7 linked regions of the Homo sapiens genome follow. The protein of the gene in region 6 purifies or fractionates together with the protein of the main gene of each other region. This does not show direct contact. Each region holds a gene or a part of one and is shown on either strand. Other genes may lie near its edges.

Evidence for each region.
Region 1: the proteins of MKRN1 (region 6) and DRG1 purify together in Homo sapiens (affinity purification with mass spectrometry, with the first as the bait; one large-scale study listed by BioGRID). This does not show direct contact.
Region 2: the proteins of MKRN1 (region 6) and NUP42 purify together in Homo sapiens (affinity purification with mass spectrometry; one large-scale study listed by BioGRID and IntAct). This does not show direct contact.
Region 3: the proteins of MKRN1 (region 6) and LARP1 purify together in Homo sapiens (affinity purification with mass spectrometry, with the first as the bait; 2 studies listed by BioGRID). This does not show direct contact.
Region 4: the proteins of MKRN1 (region 6) and SMCHD1 purify together in Homo sapiens (affinity purification with mass spectrometry, with the first as the bait; one large-scale study listed by BioGRID). This does not show direct contact.
Region 5: the proteins of MKRN1 (region 6) and DDX24 purify together in Homo sapiens (affinity purification with mass spectrometry, with the first as the bait; one large-scale study listed by BioGRID). This does not show direct contact.
Region 7: the proteins of MKRN1 (region 6) and DHX30 purify together in Homo sapiens (affinity purification with mass spectrometry, with the first as the bait; one large-scale study listed by BioGRID). This does not show direct contact.

The regions. Positions count from the first base shown.
Region 1 is NC_000022.11:31,429,955-31,433,323, reverse strand, and holds part of DRG1 (developmentally-regulated GTP-binding protein 1), read right to left. Parts: intron 1-3,369. UniProt on the Homo sapiens protein: Catalyzes the conversion of GTP to GDP through hydrolysis of the gamma-phosphate bond in GTP. Appears to have an intrinsic GTPase activity that is stimulated by ZC3H15/DFRP1 binding likely by increasing the affinity for the potassium ions.
Region 2 is NC_000007.14:23,187,811-23,192,505, reverse strand, and holds part of NUP42 (nucleoporin NUP42), read right to left. Parts: intron 1-4,695.
Region 3 is NC_000005.10:154,761,102-154,765,796, reverse strand, and holds part of LARP1 (la-related protein 1), read right to left. Parts: intron 1-4,695. UniProt on the Homo sapiens protein: RNA-binding protein that regulates the translation of specific target mRNA species downstream of the mTORC1 complex, in function of growth signals and nutrient availability.
Region 4 is NC_000018.10:2,653,712-2,659,147, reverse strand, and holds the start of SMCHD1 (structural maintenance of chromosomes flexible hinge domain-containing protein 1), read right to left. Parts: upstream 3,423-5,436; 5' UTR 3,073-3,422; coding exon 2,887-3,072; intron 1-2,886. UniProt on the Homo sapiens protein: Non-canonical member of the structural maintenance of chromosomes (SMC) protein family that plays a key role in epigenetic silencing by regulating chromatin architecture.
Region 5 is NC_000014.9:94,074,703-94,078,202, forward strand, and holds part of DDX24 (ATP-dependent RNA helicase DDX24), read right to left. Parts: intron 1-3,500. UniProt on the Homo sapiens protein: ATP-dependent RNA helicase that plays a role in various aspects of RNA metabolism including pre-mRNA splicing and is thereby involved in different biological processes such as cell cycle regulation or innate immunity.
Region 6 is NC_000007.14:140,468,905-140,473,599, reverse strand, and holds part of MKRN1 (E3 ubiquitin-protein ligase makorin-1), read left to right. Parts: intron 1-1,588; coding exon 1,589-1,717; intron 1,718-4,695. UniProt on the Homo sapiens protein: E3 ubiquitin ligase catalyzing the covalent attachment of ubiquitin moieties onto substrate proteins. These substrates include FILIP1, p53/TP53, CDKN1A and TERT.
Region 7 is NC_000003.12:47,843,907-47,848,601, forward strand, and holds part of DHX30 (ATP-dependent RNA helicase DHX30), read left to right. Parts: intron 1-1,793; coding exon 1,794-1,946; intron 1,947-2,258; coding exon 2,259-3,095; intron 3,096-3,366; coding exon 3,367-3,442; intron 3,443-3,525; coding exon 3,526-3,630; intron 3,631-3,874; coding exon 3,875-4,050; intron 4,051-4,273; coding exon 4,274-4,480; intron 4,481-4,562; coding exon 4,563-4,644; intron 4,645-4,695.

The sequences.
Region 1 (3,369 bases), on a different chromosome or scaffold from region 6:
ACTCCAGGTTGGGCAACGAGCGAAACTCCGCCTCAAAAAAAAAAAAAAAAATCCGTCTTTAATCTTCATAGAGAAATACCCTGAAAATTTCAGACTGATTCTTACAGATACAATATCACTTATAGACTGTTAGAGAATACCTGTTTTTGCTGGGTTTCCTGAAACCATCAGTGGGTACTGACAAGAAATTAGGGCCTCCCTCTTCAGCCATGCCAGGAAAATCTTCCTCCCTAACCAGAAACTGTAATTGATATGTCCTCCCGATTTACTGGAATATGTGAAGGTAATTTATATCCATGGGCCTCCAAACTTAAGAATATGTTGTGCTAGAGATGAAAACTGGTGAATAAGACACCGAGACCTGCCTCACAGAGACTAAGAACTATGTACCAAGAGTAAAAAAGGTGGCCATATTGTTGTTATATTATCATTGAGTCAAAACCTCTTTAAAAAATCTATATTCCAGGCCGGGCACGGTGGCTCATGCCTCTAATTCCAGCACTTTGGGAGGCTGAGGCGGGCGGATCACGAGGTCAGGAGTTCGAGACCAGCATGGCTAATATGGTGAAACCCTGTCTCTACTAAAAATACAAAAATTAGGCCAGGCGTGGTGGCTCACACCTGTAATTCCAGCATTTGGGAGGCCCAGGCGGGCGGATCATGAGGTCAAGAGATCGAGACCATCCTGGCCAACATGGTGAAACCCCATCTCTACTAAAAATACAAAAAAATTAGCTGGGCGTGGTAGCGCGCACCTATAGTCCCAGCTACTTGGGAGGCTGAGGCAGGAGAATCGCTTGAACCTGGGAGGCGGAGGTTGCAGTGAGCCAAGATCGCGCCACTGCACTCCAGCCTGGGCGACTGAGTCTCTCTCAGTCTCAAAAAAAAAAAAAACACACACACACACAAAAAACACAAAGCACAGAGTAAGGGATCAGTGTGGTCAAGGACATGAAGGAAATGGAAAAGGGATAAATGTTATAATTAATTAGGCCTGAAGATGAAAGTTTTCTATTATTAAGAGAGTTGTACCAGTCTGGGCAGCATGGAGAAACCCTAGCTCTAGAAAAATAGAAAAAATTAGCCAGGCATGGTGGTTTGCACCTGTAGTCCCAGCTATTTAAAAGGCTAAGGTGGGAGGATCGCTTGAGCCCAGGAGTTCAAGGCTGCAGTGAACCACGATTACGCCACTGGACTCCAGCCTGGGCGGCAACAGAACAAGACCCTATCTCAAAAAAACCAAAAAGATAGTTGTGCAATAATTAAAGAAAAAAAAAAAAACAGTAAAATAAGAGCAAATAAAATCCTGTTTGCTTCGATATGTTTCTTATCTGAGACATTTTTCTCCCCTTTTTAATTCCCTGGTAAATTTAAAGTTCTGAAGGTTTTGAACAATGTTTTGCCACCATAGAAGGAAAGAGCTATATATAAATCTACAAAGTTTGAAAAAGGACAGTGTTTAACTTTTTACAAAAGTCATCTTTACCAGTTAAAGTAACTGCCAAAGCATAATGTTTTGACTGTGGTGGAAATTAGCACTTACATGTGGAATATAGTTGTTTTATATGTAAGGATCTGAAGGTCAATAAAGGACTTCACTCTCTCAGTACTCTTAGGATCAGAAACAAGTTTTTTCTTTCTTTGGTTGGTTTTTTGAGGAAGGGTCTCAGTCCGCTGCCCAGGCTAGAGTACAGGGGGCATGATCATTATCTTGGCTCGCTGCAATGTCAACCTCCTGGGCTCAAGCAATCCTACCTCTGCCTCCTGAGTAGCTGGGACCACAGGTGCCTGGTACCATGTCTGGCTAATTTTTTTATTTTTGATAAAAACGGGGTCTCACTATATTGCCTAGTCTGATCTCACACTCCTGGACTCAAGCAGTCCTCCTGCCTTGGCCACAAAGTGCTGAGATTACAGGCGTGAGCTACCACACCTAGCCCTATTTTCTTCTTTTGTTTTTAACCCTTTTTCCTATTCAGAAAAAAAAGTGCGGCGGGCACAGTGGCTCACGCCTGTAATCCCAACACTTTGGGGGGCCGAGGTGGACAGATCACGAGGTCAGGAGATCGAGACCATCCTGGCTAACATGGTGAAACCCCGTCTCTACTAAAAATACAAAAAATTAGCCAGGCATGGTGGCAGGCACCTGTAGTTCCAGCTACTCGGGAGGCTGAGGCAGGAGAATGGCATGAACCCGGGAGGCGGAGCTTGCAGTGAGCCGAGATCGCACCACTGCACTCAGCCTGGGCAACAGAGCAAGACTCCGTCTCAAAAAAAAAAAAAAAAAAGCGGGGGGGGGGGGGGAAGGCCGGGTGCAGTGGCTAGTGTCTGTAATCCCAGCACTTTGGGAAGCCAAAGCAGGAGAATCGCTTGAACCCAGGAGTTCGAGACCAGCCAGGGCAACATAGGGAGACCCTGTCTCTACAAATAAAAAAAAAATTTGCTGGGCATGGTGGCATACACTTATGGTCTCAGCTATTCAGAAACTGAGGTAGGAGGATCGCTTGAGCCTGGGAAGTCGAGACTGCAGTGAGCTGTGACAGAGCCACCGCACTCCAGCCTGGGAGACAGAGAACCTGTCTCAAAAATAATACTAAGTGGGAAGGCTAAAATGAACCCTGTAGTGGCCGGGCATGATGGCTCACGCCTGTAATCCCAGCACTTTGAGAGGCCGAGGCGGGCGGATCACGAGGTCAGGAGATCAAGACCATCCTGGCTAACACGGTGAGACCCCATCTCTACTAAAAATATAAAAAATTAGACGAGTGTGGTGGCGGGTGCCTGTAGTCCCAGCTACTCAGGAGGCTGAGGCAGGAGAATGGCGTGAACCCGGGAAGCAGAGCTTGCAGTGAGCGGAGATGGCGCCACTGCACTCTAGCCTGGGCGACAGAGCGAGACTCCATCTCAAAAAAAGAAAAAAAAAAAAAAATTAACCCTGTAGTATTGAACTAGAATCAGAGATAACAGTATAAACTCATGGTTTTTAGGAAAGATGGATAAATGATGGATAGTGAGGAAGGATAAGACAGATACAGAAATACAGTTGTGTATATAAGCATCATTAGTATCCATACATGTATTTCCTAACTTTATTTGCTGAGAGGGCCTACAGGCAATGATAACCTACTTGCTAACAATGAGCATGCTTAGCACCCACATCTTGAAAACTGGGGCTCCTTGGAGAAGTGACTAATTTTCAGGGCTAGTGCAGGCAAAATCAATGTCATTTGGGAACATCTAAGTATTAACACTATCAAAAAGTAAGGAAAGGGTGGCTGATGCCTGTAATCCTGCACTTTGGGAGGCAGAGATGGAAGGATCACTTGAACCCAGGAGTTTGAGAAGCCTGGGCAACATTGCAAGACCCCA
Region 2 (4,695 bases), about 120 Mb from region 6:
GCATCATCTCGGCTTACTGCAACCTCGGCCTCCTGGGTTCAGGCAATTCTCCTGCCTCAGCCTCCACAGTAGTTGGGATTACAGGCATGCACCACCAAGCCCGGCTAATTTTTTTTGTATTTTTAGTAGAGATGGGGTTTCACCACATTGGCCAGGTTGGTCTCGAACTCCTGACCTTGTGATCCACCCGCCTCAGCCTCCCAAAGTGCCGAGATTACAGGCGTGAGCCACCGCGCCTGATCCGTTATGATTTTCTTAACATTTTCTTTTCTCTTACAGTACGTTATTAGTAGTTAAGCTTTTGGGGAGTCAAAGCTTATACGTGGATTTTTGACTGCACAGAGGATCAGTGCCGCTAAACTTTATGTTGTTCAAGGGTCAATTGTATACATAAACAAGAAATATGTTTGTGTGTGTATATGTTTCGAAAGAAATATACTAAAATGTAGTAGTTACCTCTGTGATATCAGGTTATTTTTATTTTATTTATATATTTCTGTACTTTCCAAGTTTTCTAAAGCAAAAGCTGTAACTTGTTTTTTATTTTTGAGACACAGTCTCATTCCTGTCACCCAGGCTGGAGTGCAGTGGCTCACTGCCGCCTTGACTTCCTAGGCTCCAGTGATCCTCCCATCTCAACCTCCTGAGTAGCTGGGACTATAGGAATGTGCCACCACACCCTGGTAGAGACAGGGTTTCGCCAAGTTGCCCAGGTTGGTCTCAAATTCTTGGGCTCAAGTGATCCACCTGCCTCAGCCTCCCAAAGTGCTAGGATTACAAGCATGAGCCACCACATCTGGCCCAAAAGCTGTAACTTTTATAATTGGGCAAACTTACTAAGAAAGGCAAAAAATGTTCAAGATATTTTCTACAAAGAATTCCTTGTAATCCAGTTATTATTAACTCCAAGGACACCTGCTTCAGAGTAAAGGAAAGACTAAATGTTTCCCTGGATTCCTTCTAATGACTTGTCTTCCCCATCTTTACTGACCTCTCAGGCCAAAAAACCCTAGGAATCACCTTGGATTTCTCTTTCCCTATATCTAGTTAATCAGCATCCTGCCAGTTCAAGCTCCAACAGAGAACCCAAATATGACCAATTCTGTCTTCACTGCTATGAACTCTAGTCACAAGCAGCAATGTCTTCTAACTTGTCTCCCTATCTCTACTTTTGCCACGGCTCCCAACAGACCTTTCTCCCCCCTCACACAGCATGCTGAGTTAGCTTTTTCTAATCAGATCACGTCCCTCTTTTGCTTAAAGTTCTTCATGGCTGCCTGCCCAGTGCAATTAGGCCCAACATGATCTGGCCCCTGGCTATCTCTCTGGCCTTACTGTCATATTACTTTCCCTTGTTTACTCTCCTCCAGTAATTCAGGCCCCACTAGTCTGTAAACACTGCCAACCTTGTTCTTACCTCAGGGCCTTTGCAATAGCTAGTCCTACTGCCAGGAATGTTTTCCCCAAATCTTCCCATAACTGATACCCTCTCTTTATTCAGGACTCATTTCCAATACTGTCTCCCAGGAATAGATAACCACTCTATCTAAAGAAATATTGTTCCCCTAATTGCCTATTCCTTCCAGCTGTGCTCAACCAGAATTCCTCATCCAAACCACAGAACACAGAAAATGATTTGAGTGATAATTTTCTCAAGTCTTGCAAAATGGGGCAAAAGTAGTATCATTCTTTTTTTAATTTTTTATTTTTATTTTTTATTATACTTTAAGTTTTAGGGTACATGTGCACAATGTGCAGGTTTGTTACATATGTATGGGCAAGGACTTCATGTCTAAAACACCAAAAGCAATGGCAACAAAAGCCAAAATTGACAAAAGTAGTATCATTCTATTATAGCTGCATGGAAAAAGTTAATTTATTAATACAATGGATGCCTAAGGACAGAAGTACTCAAACTTTTGGTCTCAGTACTCCTTTACATTCTTAAAAATCATTAAGGACCCCAAAGAATGTTTGTTTACAAGGGTTACTTACATTGATAATTACCACATTTGAAATGAAAACTGAGAAACTTAGTATTAATTCATTTAAAAGTAAGAAAACAATTACTTATCTACATAAATGAAAAAGCTATTTTCCAAAACAAAAAATGAAAATTTAGTAAGATGAATAGCCTTGCTTTATGTTTATACATCTCTTAATGTTTGGCTTAATAGAAGACTGCTGGATTCTTACATATGCTTCTGCATTCATTCTGTTGCAATATGTTGTTCTGACTGAAGTGTATGAAGAAAATGGGCATTCACACAGACACGTATTGGAAAAGGAAGACTTAAATGGCTTTTTCAAATAACTGTGGACATTTTTCTTTGATACTACACCAAAACTTAACAAGTGGTAGTTTTTTAAAGGTTAACTATAACATAGACTCAAGCCATACTAATGAACTTTTTGTGGCATTATATTAACATTCACTGGTTTATCATGCATGTAGAATGGACTTTCAGCCATGCATAATTTTGTAATATCACATATAAGTCATTTGAAAAATGCCAGTTCACTGAGTTATGCAGAACTTCTAAACATTGGCACGTTATTATACAACATCAAAAAAATTTTTTTTTTTTTTTTTGAGACAGAGTCTCACTCTGTCACCCAGGCTGGAGTGCAGTGGCACAATCTTGGCTCACTGCAAGCTCCGCCTCCCAGGTTCATGCCATTCTCCTGCCTCAGCCTCCCAAGTAGCTAGGACTACGGGCGCATACCACCATGTCTGGCTAATTTTTTGTATTTTTTAGTAGAGATGGGGTTTCATCGTGTTAGCCAGGATGGTCTCCATCTCCTGACCTCATGATCCACCCACCTCGGCCTCCCAAAGTGCTGGGATTACAGGTGTGAGCCACCGTGCACAGCCAAAAAAATTTTTTAAAGAGACAGGGTCTCGCTCTGTCACCCAGGCTGGAGTGTGGTGGCACCATCAGAGCTCACCATAACTTTGAACTCTTGAACTCAAGTGATCCCCCCACCTCAGCCTCCAGAGTAGCTAAGAGTCTTGGCATATGCCATCATACTCAGGCTAATTTTTGTATTTTTTGTAGAGACAAGGTCTTGCTATATTGTCCAGGTGGTCTCAAACCCCTGGCTTCAAGCCATTCTCCCACCGCAGCCTCCCAAAGCACTGGGATGACAGGCATGAGCTGCTGCGTGTGGCCCTCACATTTGTGAATGTTGCCATCCATTTAATCAGAAGAGATTTTAAGTACTGAGAAGCCATCATGCTCACGATGACAAAGTTTTCCGTAATTTCAATTTTTGCTTGAAAGTTTTAATTTTTTTCATTGGCAATAAACACTATCAACTGTTTTCTTCTAAATAACCATAGTTGTCATTCCTTTCAAATAAATATTGTCTTTGAAAAAAGTGGCTAGCTCAGTCCAACTTGAACAATTACACAAGATTGTTCATCACACTTGGGCATGGGGCAGACACACTTTTTGTGTGCTTCCCATTTTGTCACACAGAATACTAAAAAGGTGCGTACTCAGGGTCAAGGGTTAACAAAATTAATAATTTTTATCTCTTCATAAAGGAAGTTCTTAAGTTCAAATGGCATTAAACATTTTTTTATTGTGACATCTACTAGTAATTTATTGCCTCTGCCTTGATTCTTGCTAAGATACAAGTAGTTCTACTCCTCAATGCTGCTGCACCAACAGTGCAAATGTCAACACAGTGAAAAATGGCAATTAATCACTTAGTATTATCAGAAAATATTTTTGAACTCAGGCAACTCCTAAAAGGGCCTCAGGGATAAAGTTGCCAGACTTAGCAAATAAAAATACAGGATGCCCAGTTAAATTTGAATTTCAGATATACAATAAATACTTTTTTTAGTATAAATGTGCCCCAAATATTACATGGCATGTACACATACTAAAAACACTGTTTATCTGAAATTTAAATTTAACCGGATGTCCCATATTTTATCTGACAACTATATTCAGGAATCCACATTTTAAGAACCACTGCTTTAGGGCAACAGGCATTAGGTTCAATTTGGAATGGATTAATACTCAAGTACTAATACTTAAGCTGATTAAGGGCTTAATACTTTGTGGTTTCTTTATAGAAAATATCATTATCTGAAATTATCTTAGTTTATTTGCATCACTTATTGTTTTCCTCCCTCAAGAATGTAAGATTCATAAGGAAGGGATCTTGTCTGTCTTGCTCATCACTATATTCCTAGCACTTAGCACAAAAGAAATTCAGTAAATATTTGTTAAATGGACAAGTGAATAAATAAGAAGCGTTGTAATGCAAATGCTCACAGAAAATGAGCAACTAGAACTGAGACAGAGGAAAGATCCCAAGGTTCTGCGATATTGATTGCAAGAGCTCCCATTTGCAAGGTACCCACTGTTTCCTCAAAAGGACGGAGGCCCAGGAACACCCAGAGTGGGCTTGGGAAAGCCCGGTGGTCTAGGTTTCAGCCCAGAAAGGGCTTAGGGACTATGGACAAAAAAAAAAATAAAAATAAAAAATAAAAAAAGAGAGAGAGAATATTCTAAAGCAAATGCTATTCCAGGCCAGAGAGAGAGAGAGAGACAGAGAATATTCTAAAGCAAATGCTATTCCAGGCCAGGTGTGGTGGCTCACGCCTATAATCCCAGCACTTTAGGAGCCTGTGGCGGGCGGATCACCTGAGGTCAGGAGTTCTAGACTAGACTGGCC
Region 3 (4,695 bases), on a different chromosome or scaffold from region 6:
GCCTATTACATTGTGCCAGGCACTGCTGCAGGTACTGGGAATACAAACGTAATCAGGTATCGAAGTCCCTGACCCAGTGGTGATAAGAGCTAAGAAGAAAAATAGCCAGGTGCCGTGGCTCATGCTTGTAATCCTGGCACTTTGGGAAACCGAGGTGGGAGGACTGCTTGAGCCTAGGAGTTTAAGACCAGCCTGGGCAACATAGTGAGACCCCATTCCTACAAAAAATTAAAAAACTGGCCAGGCGTGGTGACGTGTGCCTGTAGTCTCAGCTACTACTCTGGAGGCTGAGGTGGAAGGATCACTTGAGCCTGGGAGGTTGAGTCTGCAGTGAGCCGTGATTGCACTGCTGCACTGCAGGCTGGATGACAGACTCAGACCCTGCCTTGGGGCGGCGGGGGGCAGTGGGGAGAACTAAGAAGAAAAATGAAGCAGGGTAAGAGGGATGGAGAGAGGGAATCCAAGGTCAGGACTTGCTAGTCTATATAGGGTGGTCTGGGAAGGCATTTCCACCACAGTGATCTGCGGGAAGAGCACTACAGAACATAAGACCCAAAGCAAAGAGTACATGACATGTTTCAGGAAGTGAGGACTGATGCTGGAAGGGAATGAGTGAAGAAGGGGCAAGTGATGAAAGATGAGGTCAGAGGTTAGGTGGACAGAGACCAGATCAAGTGCGGTCTTAGAGAACACTCTAAGGACTCTGAATTTTACTCTGCTAAGAAGTTACCAGAGGGCTTTAAGTAGGAGTGATAGGAGACCAGTTAAGAGGCTGCTGCAAAAATCTACATGAGAAATGATGATGTATGGTCCAGGCCAGCAAGAGACGAGGCGGTACAAGCATTTAGATCTGGACATAGGTTTTTTTTGTTGTTTCTTTTTTTTTTTTTTTGTGATGGAGTCTTGCTCTGTTGCCCAGGCTGGAGAGCAGTGGCATGATCTCGGCTCACTGCAACCTCTGCCTCCCAGGTTCAAGCGATTCTTGTGCCTCAGCTTCCCAAGTAGCTGGGATTACAGGTGTGCACGATGACGCCCAGCTACTTTTTGTATTTTTGGTAGAGACTGGGTTTCACCATGTTGGCTAGGCTGGTCTCAAACTCCTGACTTCAACTGACCCTCCCGCCTCGGCCTCCCAAAGTGCTGGGATTACAGGTGTGAGCCACTACGCCCAGCCAGTTTTTTTTTTTTTTTTTTTTTTTTTGAGACATGGTCTCACTGCATTGCCTAGGCTGGAGTGCAGTGGCTCTTGCTCAATATAGCCTCGACCTCCTGGGCTCAAGCAATCCTTCCACCTCAGCCTCCAGAGTAGCTCAGACCACAGGAATGCACCACCACACCCAGTTAATTTTTTTTTAAAGAGATGGGGTCTCTCACTATGTTGCCCAGGCTGGTCTTGAACTCCTGCGCTCAAGTGATCCTCCCAAAGTGCTGGGATGACTGGTATAAGCCCCCACACCCAACCTGGATGCAGCTTTTTTTTTTTTTTTGAGATGAAGTCTTGCTCTGTCACCCAGGCTGGAGTGCAATGGTGCAATCTCAGCTCACTGCAACCTCTGCCTCCCAGGTTCAAGCGATTCTCCTGCCTCAGCCTCCCGAGTAGCTGGGGATTACAGGCGCATGCCACCACGCCCAGCTAATTTTTGTATGTTTAGTAGAGGCAGGGTTTCACTGTGTTGGCCAGGCTGGTCTTGAACTCCTGACCTCAGGTGATCCACCTGCCTCGGCCTCCCAAAGTGCTGGGATTACAGGCGTGAACCACCGCACCCAGGCAGCTTTTTCTTTTTGAGACAGTCCTGCTCTGTTGCCCAGGCTGGAGTGCAGTGACACACTCATCTTTCACTGCAGCCTTTACCTCCCAAGGCTCAAGTGATCCTCCCACCTCAGCCTCCCCAGGAGCTGGGATTACAGGCACGCACCACCATGCTCGACTAATTTTTGTACTTTTTTTTTTTTGTAAGAGATGGGGTATCCCTATGTTACCCAGACTGGTCTCAAACTTCCAGGCTCAAGCAATCTGCCCACCTTGGCCTCCCACCCAAAGTGCTGGGGTTACAGGCATGAGGCACTGTGCCCGGCCAGGACACAGTGTTTAATTGTCAAAGGATGTACTAGTACATTACATGTGGGGTCACAAAAAGACATTTACTTTTTAGAGACAGGGTCTCACTCTGTCGCCCAGGCTGGAGTACTGTGGCACAATCACAGCTCACTTGCAGCCTTGAACTCCTGGGCTCACATGATCCTACCATCTCGGTCTCCCAAAGTGCTGGGATTACAGGTGTGAGCCACTGCAACCAGCCAGAAAAAAAAAAACAGAGGTGGCAAGGATGATCTTAAGGTCTTTAGTCTGAGCAATTAGAAGGACAGAGTTGCTAAACGTCTCCTGAGTCTCACTTTCCTCATCTGTGAAGTGGGAATAAAAAGAGCATCTGCTGGGCCAGGCGCGGTGGCTAACATCTGTAATCCCAGCACTTTGGGAGGCCGAAGTGGGCAGATCACCTGAGGTCAGGAGTTCGAGACCAACCCGACCAACATGAAGAAACCCCATCTCTAGTAAAAATACAAAAAATTAGCCAGGCGTGGTGGTGCATGGCTGTAATCCCAGCTACTTGGGAGGCTGAGGCAGGAGAATCGCTTGAACCCAGGAGGCATAGGTTGCGGTGAGCTGAGATCGTGCACTGCACTCCAGCCTGGGCAACGAGAGAAACTCTTTCTCAAAAAAAGAAAAAAAAAAAAAAAAAAGCATCTGCTCAGCAGATCACTTGGGCTAGAACAGGTGAGACACTCAGTAAATGCAGTAAATGGTGACTATTCCAGTACTATTACTTATCTCTGAATTATCAAGAGCCTAAATAAATTAGTTTAAGTGAAAAGCAGAGCAAAAACCATACAGAGCCCTATCTCTATCAGATCATTTATCTAGATGGCTCCTGGCTACTGTGGGACTTAATTTCCTCTGAGAAGCTTGCAACTCCATTCTAAGGCAAAGAAAAAGGCAACTTTGAGTGGCTGGAATGTATGTCTTGAGAGTAAGGTGGTTACCACTAGTTTGGAGAATAATTACAAAGTGGCCTGTAAACAAGGCCTGTCATGGAGGAATCATCTAGGTTTACTAACAGCACATCAAACTGAGATGGAGAAGTCCCATGCCATATATGACAGATCTACCAAGCTGGCTTTACAAAATTCATCTATGAAGACCCACAATCCTCCCCTCCCCACACCTAGGGCTTTGCCAGTCTAAAGGTTCAGCCAAGAAAAAAAAGGTGCCACACTAGGACTGTCCTTGATTCTGGGAACATCCTTCAGGAAGACATCCCAGGCTATTAGCCATGTGAAGTTGGCCACTTGCCCCTGGTAACTACCACAAATAGCCCTTGTTGAAAATTCAGCTAACTCCTGATTATCCACTCAGTTCCGGAAAGGCACAGATAAACCCTCAGAGTGAGTAATTACCAATATCTGGCTTTGGAATGCAATCTTCTGAAATAAAAAAAAAAACTTACATCTTACCTCTGTGTAGGAGGTTTTTTTGGTTTTTTTGTTTTGTTTTGAGATGGAGTCTTGCTCTTGTCACCCAGGCTGGAGTGCAGTGGCACGATCTCAGCTCACTGCAACCTCCGCCTCCCCGGTTCGAGCAATTCTCCTGCCTCAGCCTCCTGAGTAGCTGGGACTACAGGCACACGCCACCATGCCTGGCTAATTTTTTTGTATTTTTAGTAGAGACGAGGTTTCACTATGCTGGCCAGATTGGTCTTAAAACTCCTGACCTCATGATCCGCCCGCCTCGGCCTTCCAAAGTGCTAGGATTACAGGTGTGAACCCCCGCGCCCAGCAGGACTTTTTCAATTCATGAACTGTACTGCCCCATACTCAACAGCAATTTGACGCTCTAAACAACCTCAGCACCGGGATTAGCCCCATTCTGTGAATAAGGAAAACAGGTTAGACAAACAATCTAAGGTCACAAAGTGAGAGCAGAGAGAAGTACCCTGCCCATGTTCTAATTTAAATCCCATCACCTTCTCCCTTCACATTGATGTGCTGTTTCCCATGTTTTCACCAGCGAGGTACCAAAACTTACTTCCTTTCTTGAATCCCAGGCAAGGTAAGGCCATCCTCTCTCCTGGCCACTCCCTTAGATCACTCTGGACCAGCCAGGGAGGTTTTTGAGTCTGGACTGAGGCACCTGCTGAACCTCCAGTGGCCCCAACACCCTAATTACTCCCTTTGAGCTGTCTTGGGTTTTGCAAACAGGGGAACTCCCATCTGCCAAGCTCTCCATCTTAAAGAGGTTTTGTAGTTTCAGGCCGGCTGCTCCTCCTCCTCCTCCCACCCTGCCCACCTCCCAGAAAAGAGAATGGGTGCTCAGTAACAGCTATTAAGATTGCTTACTCCAGTTCAGGTCCCACTATAGACAGTGGGTGGGTCAGCAGAAAGACCCCGACCCTCAGGAGGTTCAGAGTTCAAGAAAGCTTGTGACTACCCTCTACCTCCCAAAGGGCCAAAAACCACTTCCTAAAAACCTTCCCCTACCTGGCAGGCACTCACTTCCGGGTTAGTATGAAACTCAAACTACCTGTGCAAAAGGAAAGGGGCCAGGCCAGCTGAAGGCTCCCGATGAAAGCTGCCTCCCACTCTCCCCTTCAAAGGGTGTCCTAATTGTGACCTTTCCTTAGAAGAAGAGAAAGTGAT
Region 4 (5,436 bases), on a different chromosome or scaffold from region 6:
AGACTCCGTCTCAAAAAAAATAAATAAATAAGTAACAGTTTAGGATCACCCATAATACTGCCTGACACTACAAACATTTATTGGTTTAATTTACATTTTAACAAAAACTTTAGTATATTATTTTGTCTCTTCCCCTAAGGACAAAAGTGATGGTTCTAATAAATAGTGTGGAGTAGTGTAAAAAATATATATATGTGTGTGTATATATATGTGTATATATGTGTATATATGTATATATGCGTATACACGTATATATGTGTATATATGTGTGTATGTGTGTATATATATGTATATATACATATACATATATATACACACACACATATATATGTATATGTATACATAAGCTTTGGAATCAAATTGACCTAAATTCCAATCCCAGTTTCACTGCTTGTTGACCATGTAATCTCAGATTATTAATTCACTGACTTAATTCAGTTCTTCGAGTACGTAATGGAGACAAAGTTATGGGATCCGAGGCACAATCTAATAATGCTTAAAAGAAGTCTAACAACAAAAAAGTTAGCCTTCTCAGCCTTCTTTTTTCTTACTAGTTGGTCCCTCTCATTTCTAACTAAATTTAAAACGTTTTCTAGCAGGATAAAGTGGGAGGAAGGAGGAACAGAATTAGTTAAAAGAAATATTTTCCTTGGTTTTCCAGTTGAAATATTGAAGGAAGGAATAAATACATCTGTTCCCTACAGCAAAGAATGCCATTTGAGTAGTATAACAGAATGAACAGAGGTTCTGGGTTTGAATACTAACTTGAGCTTTACTATCTGAGTAATGAGTCACCATTTCCACGACTGTGTTTATACTTCTGTAATAAAAGGCCAATAATACTTCCTCTATTTATCTAAGAGTTACTGAGACATCTCACGAGAGGGAAATAGTGCATTTCTAGAGGAAGGGTAAAGTAGCAAAACATTTTCAAAAAGCAATTTTAAAATACGAAACAAGAGCTTTAAAGATGTATCTCATCTTTGATCCAGTTCTAAGATTTCAAACTAAGCAAACAATAATAAAAGACATAAACGGCTATGTATTCAAAGATGTTTTTCCACTGGGTGCAGTGGCTCACGCCAGTAATCCCAGCACTTTGGGAGGCGGGTGGATCTCTTGAGCCCAGGAGCTCGAGACTAGCCTGGGCAACACAGCCAAACCCCCGTATGTACGAAAAATACGAAAAAAAAAAAACATAGCTGGGCATGGTGGCGCTCACCTGTAGTCCTGGCTACTTGGGAGGCTGAGGTGGGAGGATCACCTGAGCCCGGGAATATTTGGGCCTGGGAAAATGTTTATTACAGCATTACTTAAAATCAAAAAAATTAAAAGTAATGTAAATGTCAACAGAAAGGAGAGATTCGGTTATGTAAATAGTGGTAGCAAATGGACCATTTCAAATTTTGATTTGAAGACCTACGTTTAAAGAAACTTCTGACACTATTAAGTGAAAAAATTAATAGAATATAAAACACATATTTTAGTAATTTAAAAAATGGAGTGGGAAGGAGGAGGAAGGCTGAAAAGACATAACCTCAGGTGCTAAGAGTAGTCATATAGTAGTTTTACAGCGAGTAAAAGATTTACTTGTTTCCCCCCTCTGGTTCCATATTTTCTTTAATGTACTGATATTTTTACTATAAACACAATAAACGTAAAAAGTTTCCCTTTTGTAGAATGGTTCTGAATAGAAAGCATTCAACAAAAAAGATGAGCATTCATTCACTTTTCAAACACAACGGGAATCTACTACGTTCAGGCACAGAATTAACTTGAGGGGATAGGTTTTTGTCTTCATTCATTTATCCATTCTAATCTGGGCATTTACAATGTCGCAGGCACAGTTCTAGACGCTGGGACTACAGCTGTGAACAAAAGAAAGTCCTTACTTCTCCAATCGTTTTCATTCTACGGATCACGATTTCAATTATTTCAGCAACCATACAGTTATATGGTCTAGAACATTTCTAAACCTATCAGCCTCACGACAAAACACGGCTTCAAAGTTCTTTTTTTCCCTTGGACGCTAAGTGTTCTTAACAGCTTAAAAAGGGACCTCATATGGTTAATTCAGAGCATGACAATATTCCTTCTTCAAAGCTCAGGCAATGCCACCACCTCATATCTATAAAGTACATCACAGTTTAAAGCGGATTTCCCTCCACGTTCATTTTCAAAGCGAACCAATACACGGGGTAGGTACGTTTTCTGGTGCTCCACAGCCACCCATACCAACCTTTGACTTGGTTTGGAAATTCCCAAGGGTTAGGGCTCAGACAGGCAGAAGGCCAGCTCTACCTGCAGAGCTGACCTGGACAAGTGTCTCCGTGCGGAAGGATCCCCCCCGCCGCCCCGCCCCAGAAGGACCTGCAACCTCGACAGGGCAACCCGGGGACACCCCGCATCATCTAATGAACTTGGGGGAGATGACTCCGGGCATTTCACAACTTCCCACCGTCGCAACACTCACAACAGAGCCCCTGGGCGTTAACTCCCTTCTCTCGTTTTAAAAAAGTTACAAAGTAAAAACAGACACCACCAACGGCTTTCCCTAGACTGCAGGGCCGCAACCGGGCTAAGCTCGCCCAGGGCCAACAAACGCTGAGCTCTCCACCCGGGCCGGCAAGGCCTCCCGTAAAAGGAGCGGAGGCAGAGGGAGGGCCACGGGGGAGCCGGCCCTGCACTTCGAGGCCCGGGCCAGGGCCCGCCCGAGGCGTCCGGCCACCAGGTCACGGACATGGCGGGCACACGGGAGAGGGAAGCCAAGGCCGCAGGACCGGGACCGGGTGACAGGTTTATTGCCCTCAGTGAGCAAGTTGAGTTTCTCATCACCCTCCCGCCCCCAAGTCTACACGCGCATCCCTTCCTCGCCCCTTCGCGTACCTGACACACACACGCGCGAAATCCCGCGTAGTCCGAGCGCTCCCCGACCTGCAGAGGCCGGTCCCCGAGCTCGGACTCCTTTTCGCGCCGATCAAACAAGTACACCGTCCTGTGGCCGACGCCTCCGCCATCCTCCTCAGTCCCCACAGAGGCCCCACCAGGCCCGCCGCCGTCCGCCGCTGCCATATTGGGGAAAAGGAGAAAAGACAGCGACGCCTGCCGCCGCCGGGCTCAGGGCTGAGGTGCGCGCTCCGCGCGGCGCCTTCAGCTCCAGCTCCCGGGGCGGCTCGAGGCCTCGGCCCGGCGCGCTGCAGCTCCTCGTCAGCGGCGGCGGCCGAGCAGCGGCAGGCGCGAGGATCACCCGGGAACCGATTCAAACGCGCTCCTGCCCGTGCACCACGTCACTTCCGCGGCCCGCCACTCCTGAGGAGAAGGGGACGCGCGGCGCGCTCCTCACCGGGCCCGGGCCCAGCGCCTATCGCCGCCCACGCGAGCCTCACGGTGCGACCCGCGACCAGCGCCGCCGCCGGGACTGTGGCGCAGGAGGAAGAGCGGTGGCGGGTGGCGGGCGGCGGGCGACAGCGAGGGGCGGGGCGAATCCAGCAGGCCGCGCGGGCAGGGGCGGGGCTTCGCCGCGCGCGCGCCCGGGGCCCGCCCCCTCGGCCCTCGCGAAGTTGGAAGGAGGCTGAGTCTTTCGCGGCTGCCTGCGCCCTGCGGGTAGTCCTCAGAGGCCGAGGCGGGAGAGCAGGGCTCGGGGGCAGCGGGGGAATCTCCCGAAGAGCTGTGTTCTCTCTGTGGAAAGGGCCCCGCTGCCTTCCCGCCTCTCCAGGATCCCGACTGAGCTTGTAGGTGCCGCGCCGGCTGACTGAGCCCTCTCTGGCTGGGTCGCGTGGACGCGGCGGCGGGAAGCTTCAGGCCGGCGGTACTCGCCGGGCGCAGAGTCCACCAAAGCGAGCACGTGGGTCCCTCTGCCGAGAAAATAGGCGCTACGAGAGCCGGCGCCCCTTTTTCCTCCTCATTTCTTAGTAGTACTGGGTGGGCTCCAGCGTGGGCCCCCGAGGCAAAGCGGGTCCGTGAGAACGTCAGAAGGGCGCTCTGTGACGTCACAGCGTCCCCGCCCCCCGCACCCTCTGGGGGCCCTGGAGCGCCGACGGCATTCGGGGTACGGGGGTGACTCCAGCGCCCTAGTTTTAACGCTGCCTGCGCTTCGCGGTCTCCCACGTGCGTGTAAATTCTGAAAGAACCCACGCCACAGTTACTAGGGTTAAATTAGATGTTCGCAAAATTCTTAAGGCCTAATACGTTTTCAATCAAAGCCTTTAATCGTCGTTACCGGGCAGCGTTTCATTAACTATCCTCATCGTGGGCAGGTAGTGCCCTAACTCAACAAATAAAATGCCATTGTTAGAGGACTAGGTTTACTCTCCAGTTCTTAGAAATCGTGAATACTGTATACTTGAGAGTGGTATGTAAATTCAGAAACCCAAAGGTAGCAGATAGAGGGGTTTTTCAAATCTCAGAATATAAGCCTGGATAATAGTGCGTTTTCTGTTTTACTAGGTTTGCTAAAACCTTATATGGACAGACTTACAAAGTTAGTGTTATGTTAGAAACCTAGATTTGCTTGTGGATGTCAAGACGTTTCAAGATCGTGGGGAATGTGTGTATAAATTGACTACACATATACTAGAGGTAGACACCAACTAGAACGAAATTGTGAAGGCGTGTTTGGGGAACATACATTGTTTGGCTGGAAGTGAGGAGAACTGAGCGGTAGATGGTGGAAGATAAAATTGGAAAGACATAAACTGTGGCCAAATGCCGTTCATGTTCCTTAAGGTGGAGGTGGAGGAAAAGAAAACAAAAAAGTAACCCCCGATTCTAATGGAATTTCTTTGAAGTCTGATGTTTTATTTACCTTTCAAATTCATGCGAATGTCTCATTCTATTCCTTTATATAGTGGTATTTGAGTTAAATGACTCAAAGAAAAACACAAATTGTTTTTCTAATTCTTAGTTAATGGGTAAGATGAATTGCCTCTCTACTTCAGCAAATTGAGATTAGAGCTGGAGATTCGTCATCAGGGCAATTTCTCATTTCTTTGTAATACCAGATTATACAAGCACACCTCTTTCATGTCTTTAGAAGAGATTTCAGGATCATCTCTAAGAGATTTTTTTTTTAATGGTGCCAGAGAAGTGTACTGCAGTATTATGGGCAGCTCTTGATGGGAACATTGATGTCTTACCTTGTTGAGAGATCGAGTCTGAATCAGTTTCTTAATGGCAGTATGGCATCACTTTTGTTCTCAGAATATCAAACAATTTTTTCATCAAAGAAAGATGACGAGTTTGTTCTTTATTTAATTGTCATCACAAGTAAATAAAAGCGTTTGAAATGACCCACTTCCTTAATGAGTTCTCTTCAATTGACTCTTAGTTTTTGTTAATTAGCTATCTTACTACAGAGTAAAATATTTAAGTGGCCTTGTATCAGTTATTTATTGCTACATAACGAACTTCCCCAAAACTTAGTGGCCCCTGAAGAAG
Region 5 (3,500 bases), on a different chromosome or scaffold from region 6:
AAGGTGTTAGCCACTGCAATACAACAAGAAAAACAAAAGGCATCCAAGACTGGATAATGATCATCTTTGCAGAAAATACCATGGAATCCTCAGAAAACTACTTGGTGGAACTAAGTTGCAGGACACAAGATCAATATACAAAAATCCATCATATTTCTACTTATTGGCGACAAACAATCGGAAATAAAAAATTTTAAATTACCATTTACAATAGAATCAAAAATATAAAATGCTTAAGGATAAATCTAACATAAGATGTGAAAAATCTATATACTGAAAATTTTAAAACATTGCTAAGAAAAGTTAAAGATCTAAAGAAATGGAGAGATACCATATTCATAGACTGGAAAATTAAATATTGTTAAGACGTCATCTATCCTCAATTTGCTCTGTAATCAACAGAATCCCAATCCAGATATCAGCTTACTTTTTTTGTAGAAACTGATATAACGGATTCTAAAATCCATATGGAAGGGCAAAGGCCTACAACAGTCAAAATAACTTTTAAAAAGAACAAAGTTAGAGGACTCATACTACCTGATTTTAAGACTTATTATAAAGCTATTATAACCAAGAGAATAAGAAACTGACATAAAGACTAGACAAACAGATCAATGGAAAACAAAAAGACTCCAGAGAAAGACCCACACCTATATGGTCACAGACTTTCAACAAAGATGCAAAGTCAACTCAGTGGAGAAAGAATAGTTTTTCTACAAATGGTGCTGAAATAATTAGCCATATGCAGAAAAACCCACAAACTTTGATCCATACTTCTCACTCTAAATAAAAGTTAACTCAATAAGGATCAGAGACCAAAACATAAAACCTAAGACTATTAACACTTCTAGAACAAAACACAGGAGAAATCTTTGTGATCTTGAATTAGGCAAAAGGTTCTTAGATAAAACACCAACGGCACCAAAAGCATAAATTCATAAAAGACAAGGCTAATTTGGATTTCATCAAAATAAAGACTTTCTGCTCTTTGAAAAACACTGTTAAGAGAACGAAAAGATAAGCCACAAACTGGGAGAAAAATTTGCAAATCTCACATCTGATAAAGGACATGTATCTAGAATACACAATGAACTCCCAAAACTCTACAACAGAACATCCCTATTTTAAAAATGGGCAAAATAATCAAACAGACAAATAAGCATATGCTAAAATGCTCTACATTGCTAGTCACTAGGGAAATGCAAATTCAAATGACAAGGAAATAATAGTAAAATTTTAAAAGTCTAAAATAAAATTAAAGACTGAGCATACCTAGTTATTGACAAGAATATGGACCAACTTGAACTCATACCACCTAGTGACAACGTAAAATGGTATAATCACTTTGGAAAACTCTTTAAAAGTTACATTTACCACAAGACCTAGCCATTCCACACCTAGGTATTTATCCAATAGAAATTAAAGCACATATCCATACAAAGACTGGTACAATAGTATTTACAATAACTATATTTGTAATAGCCAAAAACAAGAAAAAGCACAAATGTCCATCAATAGATGAACAAACTGCTCTACCCACACATTGGAATACTATTCATCACTAAAAAGGAATGAACTGCTAGTAATTGTAATAACATGGCGTAATCTCAAATTATGCTGAGTCAAAGACTCAGATACCACCCCCTCCAGTACATATTATATGATTTCATTATATAAAATTCTAGAAAACGCAAATTAGGCCGGGGACAGTGGCTCACACCTGTAATCCCAGCACTTTGGGAGGCCGAAGCAGGCAGGTCATGAGGGCAGGAGTTTGCGACCAGCCTGACCAACATAGTGAAACCCCGTCTCTGCTAAAAATACAAAAATTAGCCAGATGTGGTGGCAAGTGCCTGTAATCCCAGCTATTCGGGAAGCTGAGGCAGGAGAATCACTTGAACCCAGGAGGCGGAGGTTGCAGTGAGCCGAGATTGGGCCACTGCACTCCAGCCTGGGTGACAGAGCGAGACTCCGTCTCAAAAAAAAAAAAAAAAAGAAAGCAAGAAAATGCAAATTAATCTATAGTGATAGAAAGCCTATCAGTGGTTGCCTGAGGAGGAACAAGAACTGAGGGAGGGAGGGAGGGACAACAAAAAAAACCCAGGGTATCTTTTTGGGGGTAATGGATATACAGTTGACCCTTTAACACAAATTTGAAGGTAGGGGTCCACTTATACACAGAATTTCTTCCACCTCAGCCACCCTGAGACAGCAAGACCAACCCCTCCTCTTTCTACTCAGCCTACTGAAAGTCAAGATGAAGATGAACACATTTATGATGATCCACTTCCATTTAATGAATAGTAAATATATTTTCTGTTCCTTACAATTTTCTTAATAACATTTTTTCTCTAGCTTATGTTACTGTAAGAATAAAGTATATAATACAAAATATGTGCTAATAGACTGCTTATGTTATCTGTAAGGCATCCAGCCAATAATAGGCTATTAGCGTTTAAGTTTGGGGGGAGTTCAAAATTATACATGGATTTTCGACTGCACAGGGGACCAATGCCCCTAATCCCCACATTAAGGGTCTATTTATTATTGCATGGGCAGTGGTCTGTTCACAGCCCCAGATGGATGACTTATCCAAGTCGTTTTGAATTCTGGACTTGTAGATTCACAACCTGACAGGAACTGTGGTATACATCCAAATGTCAATCTCTGGCCACAACGGCTCATATAAACCTTGTTTCTGCCTTCCACGGACTTACTTCCAGGACTCTGCTGCACATACCAAAGCAGTGTAGCAGAATGCTTAACAACACACAGAACTAGCCTGGAATCCATACACTACCATTTCAGTTGTGTAATTTTAGGGAAGCTGTCTATGCTCTGTGAGGCTGAGTTTTCTCATCTGTAACATGGGAATAATGGTACTTACCCCAGGGTGGTTGTGACAACCGATTTCATCAACATAAAGCACTTAACACAGTGCATGACACATCTTAAATGCTCAGTAAATGTTCTAAGTTATTATCTCCATTCCCCTTTCCTGTAGTTCCTCACTCTTCCATCTATATGACTGCCACAGAACATCATCCTGAGTTTCCTGACCACTGTTCCAGAAACCCAAAGCACGTGTCTACTGAACACTTAAAATGTAGTTACTCTAAAATGACATGTGCTGCAAGTTTAAAACACACCAGATTTTGAAAATTTAGTAAAAAAAAAAAAAAGAACATAAAATATCTCACTAGTTTTTAACTTTTAAAAAATGTGACTCCTAGTAAATTTTAAATTACTTATGTGTTTCACATTATACAGTCACCCTTCTGTAACCGTGGGTTCTGCATCTGTGGATCGACAATATTCGGGGGGGTAAAAAAAAAAAAACTGTATCTGTACTAAACACTGTACAGACTTTTCTTGTCATTATTCCCTAAACAATACGGTGTAACAATTTACATAAGACCTATGTTGTATGAGATATTATAAGTAATCGAGAGATGATTTAAAATATACAGGAGGATGTGCCTATATAGGTTATATGTAAG
Region 6 (4,695 bases):
ATACTCACTCATTAAAAGTTAAATATCAAAGTAAGAAGTGTCACTGCAGATGAATTGATTAAATGCCTTATCTATTCTATAATTTGTAGAAATTCCTAAAGAGGTTGTTAAGATGCCTAGAGATACTCTGAGGGTGCTGTTTGGTTCTCTTGTACCCTTACAGGGTAACTTGGCAGTTTCTTGTTCTCTATGTTGGGGGCCACTATTAGGTTTCTAAGAGGCACAGCAGTAGGGGGATTCTAGTAAATTTTGTCTTTTACTGCACAGTGTCTCATGGAGACAGAGTCTGCACAGTGGAAGGAACTTCAGAAATAATATATGGCCCAGGTTTTCACCGAAGGCAAACTCAACTTGGGGTGAATCTGGATGATGTTTTTTTTTTTTTTTTTGGTGGTATCATTTAAAAACAAGACATATACTTATATTCATTGGTTTTTGTTTGGAGGAGAAATTCTTTGACGTAGACTATATCTTTTTTTCTTTTTCTTTTTCTTTTTCTTTTTGAGATGGAGTCTCTCTGTTGTCCAGGCTGGAGCGCAGTGGCTCAATGGCACGATCTCGGCTCACTGCAATCCCTGCCTCAGCCTCCCGAGTAGTTGGGATTACAGGTGCCTGCCACCATGCCCGGCTAATTTTTTGTACTTTTAGTAGAGATGGGGTTTCACCATATTAGCCAGGATGGTCTTGATCTCCTGACCTCGTGATCCATCCGCCTTGGCCTCCCAAAGTGCTGGGATTACAGGTGTGGGCCACCACGCCTGGCCCTTTTTTTTTCTTTTTGTTATGTAAGTTAAACAGTTTTCATAATCTAAGGCGTATTATTATTACATTTTTTTGAGACAGAGTCATAGTCGTGCTCCATCACCCAGGCTGGAATGTCAAAATAGTTCGTTGTAACAATGCAAAAACAAGGGCCAGGCGCAGTGGCTCACGCTTGTAATCTCAGCACTTTGGGAGGCCGAGGTGGGCAGATCACAAGGTCAGGAGATCGAGACCATCCTGGCTAACATGGTGAAACCCTGTCTCTACTAAAAATACAAGAAATTAGCCGGGCGTGGTGGCGGCGCCTGTAGTCCCAGCTACAAAGCAAAAACACAATGCAAAAACGGACTAATACACTTGCTTTACTCCTGTTTTCTTATCACCTTCTTTTTATTTTTTTTTTTTGAAATGGAGTCTTGCTCTGTCTCCCAGGCTGGAGTGCAATGGCGCGATCTCGGCTCATTGAAACCTCAGCCTCCCACGTGTAAGCAGTTCTCCTGCCTCAGCCTCCTGAGTAGCTGGGATTAACATGTGTGCCACCACACCAGCCAATTTTTGTATTTTTAGTAGAGACGGGGTTTCACCATGTTGCCCAGGCTGGTCTCGAACCGCTGGTCTTAGACCCCTGACCTCAGGTGAGCCACTCACCTCAGCCTCCCAAAGGTACTGGGATTACAGGCATGAGCCACCATGCCTGGCCCTTTCTTTGTGTTTATTTCGTATGTTTGTGTATTTACTGGTTGAATATATTAGTCATGAATACTAATTAGTTTTAATATTTTCAAGGATTGGTTTTAATCCAGTTTTGTGGTCTTTCGTCTCACAGGTATTTTATGCATGGGGTTTGTAAGGAAGGAGACAACTGTCGCTACTCGCATGACCTCTCTGACAGTCCGTATAGTGTAGTGTGCAAGTATTTTCAGCGAGGGTACTGTATTTATGGAGACCGCTGCAGGTAAGAATTTGTTTATAAATTTGTTCAGGGGTGGGTTGGAGGAAAAAGGTAAAAGACATACTTCTGATAGCTTTATATGTCACTGATTAAAAATAATGCTTTGAAAATGACTCTTGGCTGGGCAGTGGCTCATGCCTATAATCCCAGCACTTTGGGATGCTTAGGTAGGAGGATTGCTTGATCTTGGAAGTTTGAGACCAGCCTGGGTAACCTAGTGAGACCTCATGTCTACAAAATATAGAAAAATTAGCTGGGCATGGTGGTGTGCGTCTGTAATCCCAGCTACTTCGGAGGCTGAAGCAGGAGAATTGCATGAACCCGGGAGGTGGATGTTGCACTGAGCCAAGAGCCCGCCACTGCGCTCCAGCCTGGGCAACAGAGCGAGACTCCACCTTAAAAAAAAATTGGGTAGGGCTTTTCTATCCTCCTAGTTCAGAAATGACTAGGTGTATTATCTGTGGATGTTAAACAAGTAACCCTCAAATTTATTTTTTATTTATTTTTTTGAGACAGGGTCTTACTGTGTTGCCCAGGCTGGAGTGCAGTGGTGTGGTCACTTCTCACTGCAGCCTCAACTTACCAGGCTGAAATGATCCTCTCACCTCAGCCTCCCAAGTAGCTGGGACCACAGGGATGCACCACCTCATTTATTTAGTTTTTTGTAGAGATGGGGGTCTTAATATGTTGCGTAGGCTGGTCTCAGATTCCTGGGCTCAAGCAATCTTCCTGCCTTGGCCTCCGAAAAGTGTTGGGATTACAAGCATGAGCCCCAGAAACTGGCCCATCCCCAAATTTAGTAGGTTAAAACAGTGAACATTTATTATCTCAGTTTCTGGGGTTCCGGATTCTGTGAGTGCCTTAGCTGGATGGTTCTATCTCAGAGACACTTATGAGATGGCAGTCAAAATTTTAGCAAGTCATCTGAAGACTTGATGGGGACTCCAGGATATTTTTTGTGTGTGTGAGACCGAGTCTTGTCCCTCTGTTGCCCAGGCTGGAGTGCAGTGGCAAGATCTCGGCTCACTGCAACCTCTGCCTCCCAGATTCAAGCAATTCTCCTGCCTCAGTTTCCCAAGTAGATGGGATTACATCTGCGTGCCACTATGCCCGGCTAATTTTTTATATTTTTGGCAGAGACAGGGTTTCATCATGTTGGCCAGGCTAGTCTCGAACTCCTGACCTCAAGTGATCTGCCCACCTCGGCCTCCCAGAGTGCTGGGATTACAGGTGTGAGACACAGTGCCCAGCCAGCATTGTTTTTTGTTTGTTTGTTTGGGTTTTTTTGTTTGTTTTGTTTAGGATGGAGTCTTGCTCTTGTCGCCCAGGCTGGAGTGCAGTGGCGCAATTTCGGCTCACTGCAACCTCCGCCTCCTGGGTTCAAGCGATTCTCCTGCCTCATCTTCCGGAGTAGCTGGGATTACAGGCGCCCGCCACCACACCTAGCTAATTTTTGTATTTTTAGTAGAGACGGAGTTTCACCATGTTGGCCAGGCTGGTCTCGAACTCCTGACCTCAGGTGATCCACGCGGTTCGGCTTCCCAAAGTGCTGAGATTACAGCCGTGAGCCATGGTGCCTAGCCCAGTATTGTTTTTAAGAGGTCTTACTCTCATGACTGTTGGCAGGAGACTTTGGTTTCTCACCACTTGGCCTTTTTTTTTTTTCAAGACGGAGTTTTGCTGGTCACCCAGGCTGGAGTGCAATGGCATGATCTCAGCTCACTGCAACCTCTGCCTCCCGCGTTCGAGAGATTCTCCTGCCTTGGCCTCCAGAGTAGCTAGGATTACAAGCATGCACCACCACACCTGGCTAATTTTTTTTTTTTTTTTTTTTTTTTTGAGACAGAGCCTAGCTCTGTCGCCAGGCTGGAGTTCAGTGGCACAGCCTCAGCTCACTGCAACCTCCACCTCCCAGGTTCAAGTGATTCTCCTGCCTCAGCCTCCCGAGTAGCTGGGATTACAGGCATGCACCGCCACACTCAGCTAATTTTTGTATTTTTAGTAGAGATGGGGTTTCACCTTGTTGAAAGGATGGTCTTGATCTCCTGACCAGCCCACACCAGCCTCCCAAAGTGCTGGGATTGTAGGCATGAGCCACCGCGCCCGGCCCACACCCCACTAACTTTTGTATTTTTAGTAGAGACGGGGTTTCACTATGTTGGCCAGGCTGGTCTCAAATTCCTGAGCTCAGGCAGTCCACCTGCCTTTGCCTCCCAAAGCGCTGGGATTACAGGCGTGAGCCACCCCGCCTGGCCCACATGGGCCTTTTCATAGGGATACTTTAGTATCCTTGCAGCTTGGCAGCTAGCTTTCCCCAGAGCAAACAATTTAACAGAGGAGGCAAGGAAAAGCCACAATGCCTTTTATGACCTAGTGTCAGAAGTCATATACTGTTATTTCCACTGATTCTGGACTAAGTTACTAAGTCCAGCCCACATGTAAAGGGAGAGGATTGGGCTCTACCTTTTGAAGGAAGGCATATCAAAGAGTTTTGTATGTACTTTAAACCACTACCCTCGGTAAGACTTTTGACAGTGTCATAGTAAATTTTTTTTTTTTTTTGAGATGGAGTCTCGCTGTCACCCAGGCTGGAGTGCGGTGGTGGGATCTCAGCTCACTGCAAGCTCCGCCTCCCGGGTTCACGCCATTCTCCTGCCTCAGCCTCCTGAGTAGCTGGGACTACAGGCGCCCGCCACCACGCCTGGCTAATTTTTTGTATTTTTAGTATAGACGGGGTTTCACTGTGTTAGCCAGGGTGGTCTTGATCTCCTGACCTCGTGATCCGCCAGCCTCAGCCTCCCAAAGTGCTGAGATTACAGGCGTGAGCCACTGTGCCATAGTCATAGTCAATTTTAATGTCATTATCAGAAAATGTAGTGTGAGCCACTGGGTTCAAATAGAGTTCAGAACCTGACATTATTGATGGTGTGGGATATTAATGTTAAGTCATCCCACATCTGTTTATTAAGAGTCCAGTAAGG
Region 7 (4,695 bases), on a different chromosome or scaffold from region 6:
GCGAAGACTGGTCTTAAAATCTTGGGCTCAATCAGTCTTTCTACCTTCACTTCCTAAAGTGTTGGGATTGCAGGCGTGAGCCACCGCTCCTGGCCATGGCCGTTCTCTTGAAAGGGGCTGGTGGAGTTAGCTGATGGCACAGTAGTGGGAGGGAGTTGGGATTGTCTCTGACTGCCTGAGGAGTTAGTAATCTCAACCCATGTTGGTGGAGGTTTAGTTTGCAGACCAAGATAGAAATGGGCCTGCTTTACTCTGAATGGTCAGGTGCACCATTTCATGGGTACAGTTGGCTCTGGGAACCATGTTTTAGTTACAGCTGATGGTGAGAGGTAACAAGAACCTGGAGAAAGACGAGGAAGAGGGGACAGGCAATTGGTGAGATAAAGAGGGCACAGATATGCTACCTGTGACTCGAGGGCAGAACAAGGACTGAGTAGAACTGGAGGCATCTGAGCTTTGGCCTGATGCACACGCACTGTGAGCAGAAGCACCTTGGCATGGTAGGGGCCTGTCTGGGAAGGAGCAAGCTTTGCAGTGGCTGGAGGGCCATTTGTCAGTGAGGCTGGTGGGTAAAACCCATGAAGTCTGGGGAGAGGGCAGAAGCCTGTTCCTGCAGCAAGGAGCTTGTGTTGGCACCTCCTGTGGTATGAGGACCAGATTCCTGTCCTTTAGGTCCTTATAGCTGATGGTGCCAGCACGCCCAGAGGCAGGGGGTTGGCCCCTGTTGGGGGAAGACTTCTTTAAGGAGGGAGTGTTTGATCTGGGCTCCGAAGGGTGAGCAGAGTCCAGCCATTAGAGGTGACAGGAACACAAGACTAGTTTTACCCATGTGCGTGAGGTATTGGAATGCTATGTTTTATCTCTGGTGAGGTGGCTTTAGGTATGTAGGGAGGTAAGACACAGTGTTTTCCTTCCAGTGGCTTGTTTGATCAAGTTGCATTATAATCGACATTTACAGGAAATTCCACGTGCATCTGTATATGATGGGGTCACAGATGGGTCGGGTGCCATGTAGGGATTGGGAGGCGGGATGGAAGGATTAGGGGAGGAAGGCTTTGATGAGGCAGCAAAGGAAGAGGGAGTCTGTGGGGTGCGTTCTAGCATCGAGGGCCTGGCCTGGCTGGTCTGAGGGTACATGTTGGGAATTCACAGAGGTGACAGTGGCCTATTGTGGTGTTGGGGGGGCTGTAGCCACACAGTGAGTGGTTTCTCCTCAGGGCCTTCTCCAGACGTAGGGCTGTTCTGCTGTGACACATCAGGTTTAGCTTTTCTTGAATTAACTTTATTATTATTTTCTTTGAGACAGAGTCTCGCTCTGTCGCCCAGGCTGGAGTGCACCGTCATGATCTCGGCTCACTGCAACCTGTGTCTCCAGGGTTCAGGCGATTCTCGTGCCTCAGCCTCCCTAGTAGCTGGGACTATAGGTGCCGGCCCCCCACCTGGCTAATTTTTGTATTTTTAGTAGAGATGGGGTTTCACCATGTTAGCCAGGCTGGTCTCGAACCCCTGACCTCAGGTGATTTGCCTGCCTCGGCCTCCCAAAGTGCTGGGATTACAGGCGTGAGCCACCGCGCCCGGCCTGAATTAACTTTAGTTCATTTTTTAAAACGTTTATTTTGGTAAGTTAACATTTTCCTAGTTCATAATTTCTCCCTCCATCACCATGTCAGCCAAAATCCAAAATCTCTTAGAGATTACTTGGCACAACTTATGCGTTGGAGCTCCTGAGCTTGTCTGGGCTGGTTTTTGGGGAGCCCCAGAGCATAGACTGAGTCTTGCATGTCCCCCTGCAGAGCCTGGGCCTGGTGGACAGGAACAACGAACCGCTTACACACGCCATGTATAACCTGGCCTCTTTGCGTGAGCTGGGTGAGACCCAGCGCCGACCATGCACCATCCAGGTGCCCGAGCCCATCCTCCGCAAGATAGAGACCTTCCTGAACCATGTAAGAGGCCCTGCATCCCTCACCACCCCTGCTCCCTGTAGTCTGCCTCCATCTCTCCAGACTGAAGGCCTCCACCTGCGACAGGCAGTAGTACCTCCCCATTCTCTTCACTGAGTTTGGGGCCTGGGATCCCCCTGGCCTGAACAGCCCAGTCTTGCCCACAAGGATCCCGGGGCAGTCATGGACTAAATTAATCCTCTGCCCAGCGGGTTGGGCCACAACATCTGACCCAGGCGAATCCTGCAGAGTGGCTGGTTGTGTGTGAATGAGGAATTTCTTTTTCATTGTTTTGCTTGCCTCCCTGCCCTCCAGTACCCTGTGGAGAGTTCATGGATCGCCCCAGAACTCCGGCTGCAGAGTGATGACATCTTGCCCTTGGGCAAGGACTCAGGGCCTCTGAGTGACCCTATCACAGGCAAGCCCTATGTGCCCCTGTTGGAAGCAGAGGAGGTACGTCTCAGCCAGAGTCTGCTAGAACTGTGGCGGCGGCGAGGGCCGGTCTGGCAGGAGGCCCCCCAGCTACCTGTGGACCCACATCGGGACACCATCCTCAACGCCATTGAGCAGCACCCGGTGGTGGTCATCTCTGGGGACACGGGCTGTGGGAAGACCACGCGCATCCCCCAGCTGTTGCTGGAGCGCTATGTGACCGAGGGCCGAGGTGCCCGCTGCAATGTTATCATCACCCAACCTCGCCGCATCTCTGCTGTGTCTGTGGCACAGCGGGTCAGCCACGAACTGGGCCCCTCCCTGCGCCGGAATGTGGGCTTCCAGGTGCGGTTGGAAAGTAAGCCCCCATCCCGAGGCGGGGCCCTGCTCTTCTGCACTGTGGGTATCCTGCTGCGTAAGCTGCAGAGCAACCCCAGCCTGGAGGGCGTGAGCCACGTCATCGTGGATGAGGTGCATGAGCGGGACGTGAACACAGACTTTCTGCTGATCCTGCTCAAGGGCCTGCAGCGGCTCAACCCGGCCCTGCGGCTGGTGCTCATGAGTGCCACAGGGGACAATGAGCGCTTCTCCCGATACTTTGGTGGCTGCCCCGTCATCAAGGTGCCTGGCTTCATGTACCCAGTCAAGGAGCACTACCTAGAGGACATCCTGGCCAAGTTGGGCAAGCACCAGTACCTGCACCGGCACCGGCACCATGAGGTGAGGGACACCCCCATCCCACCCAAGGCTCCTGGCCTTTCCTCCGTGGATGCCCCTCCTCCCTGGCCCTGGGGCTTGGTGCCTGGGGCAAGTTACCCTCCCCAGTCCTCGGTTTCCTTGATAGAAACTGGGGACTAACCCTGCCTGCGTGGCACACGTGAGGATTGGAGTTGATGTCAAGCGGCTCCGTCTCACTGAGTCAGGTGGCTGTGTCCTTGGCATGACCCCTTACCCCGGGGCTGTGACTGTGGCCTCTCTTCCCCCACCCCAGTCTGAGGATGAATGCGCACTCGATTTGGACCTTGTGACTGATCTGGTTCTGCACATCGATGCTCGCGGGGAACCAGGTGGGTGCCTCCCCATCTGTCCCATGCTAGCCCTGGCCACGTTTGCAGCAACAGCTGGCTCATGCCCCAGGGCTCCTTTACAGGTGGGATCCTGTGCTTCCTGCCTGGGTGGCAGGAGATCAAAGGAGTGCAGCAGCGCCTCCAGGAGGCCCTGGGCATGCACGAGAGCAAGTACCTCATCCTGCCAGGTGAGAGCCCCGGCGGAGGGACCAGGGACCTTTGGAAACCAGCCTGACCTCTGTCCTAGGGACTGACCCAACTGGGACTCCAGGGGCCCCGGTTTCTGACCAAGCTGTGGCACTTTTCACTGGGCATAGTGTTTATCTGCGCCTGTTTCATCAAAATGGGGTCAAAATCCTTGCCCTGCCCACATTCCAGGGGGGAATTCTGGTGGAAGCAGTGCCCATAACTGGTGTGTGTCTTGCCCACCAGTGCACTCCAACATCCCCATGATGGATCAGAAGGCCATATTCCAGCAGCCTCCAGTTGGGGTGCGCAAGATTGTCTTGGCCACCAACATTGCTGAGACTTCCATCACAATCAATGACATCGTGCATGTGGTGGACAGTGGGCTGCACAAGGAAGAACGCTATGACCTGAAGACCAAGGTGGCACCTACCTCCTGGGCCCGGCCAACCACTGGGGGAGGGACTCCGTTTTGAGGTGGTCCCCAGCCCAGATCTACCTTAGACCTGCTTTGTGTGTCTTCAGAAGGCCGCGCTTGTGGGGTCTCAGTGTTCCTGATGTAGGGGGCTGGTGAGGGTTACTCAGGGAGTGGGGAAGCACTGAGGAAGTGGCATTTGTGTGCTGCTTACTTGCCACCTCCTCCAGGTGTCCTGCCTGGAGACAGTGTGGGTATCAAGAGCCAATGTGATCCAGCGCCGGGGCCGGGCGGGCCGCTGCCAGTCCGGCTTTGCCTACCACTTGTTCCCTCGAAGCCGGCTGGAGAAAATGGTCCCTTTCCAAGTGCCAGAGATCCTGCGCACACCTCTTGAGAACCTGGTGCTGCAAGCGAAAATCCACATGCCTGAGAAGACGGTGCGGCGGGGCGGGGCAGGGGCTGGCCTGGGGACCAGGCAGGTGGGAGGCAGGCTCATGGCGGGCTCTGGCTCTGTCATAGGCGGTGGAGTTCCTGTCCAAGGCTGTGGACAGTCCAAACATCAAGGCAGTGGACGAGGCTGTGATCTTGCTCCAGGAGATCGGTATGTAGGGGCTGGGCTGGGCTGGGCTGGGGAGTGGCTCTCGAGGGTGGT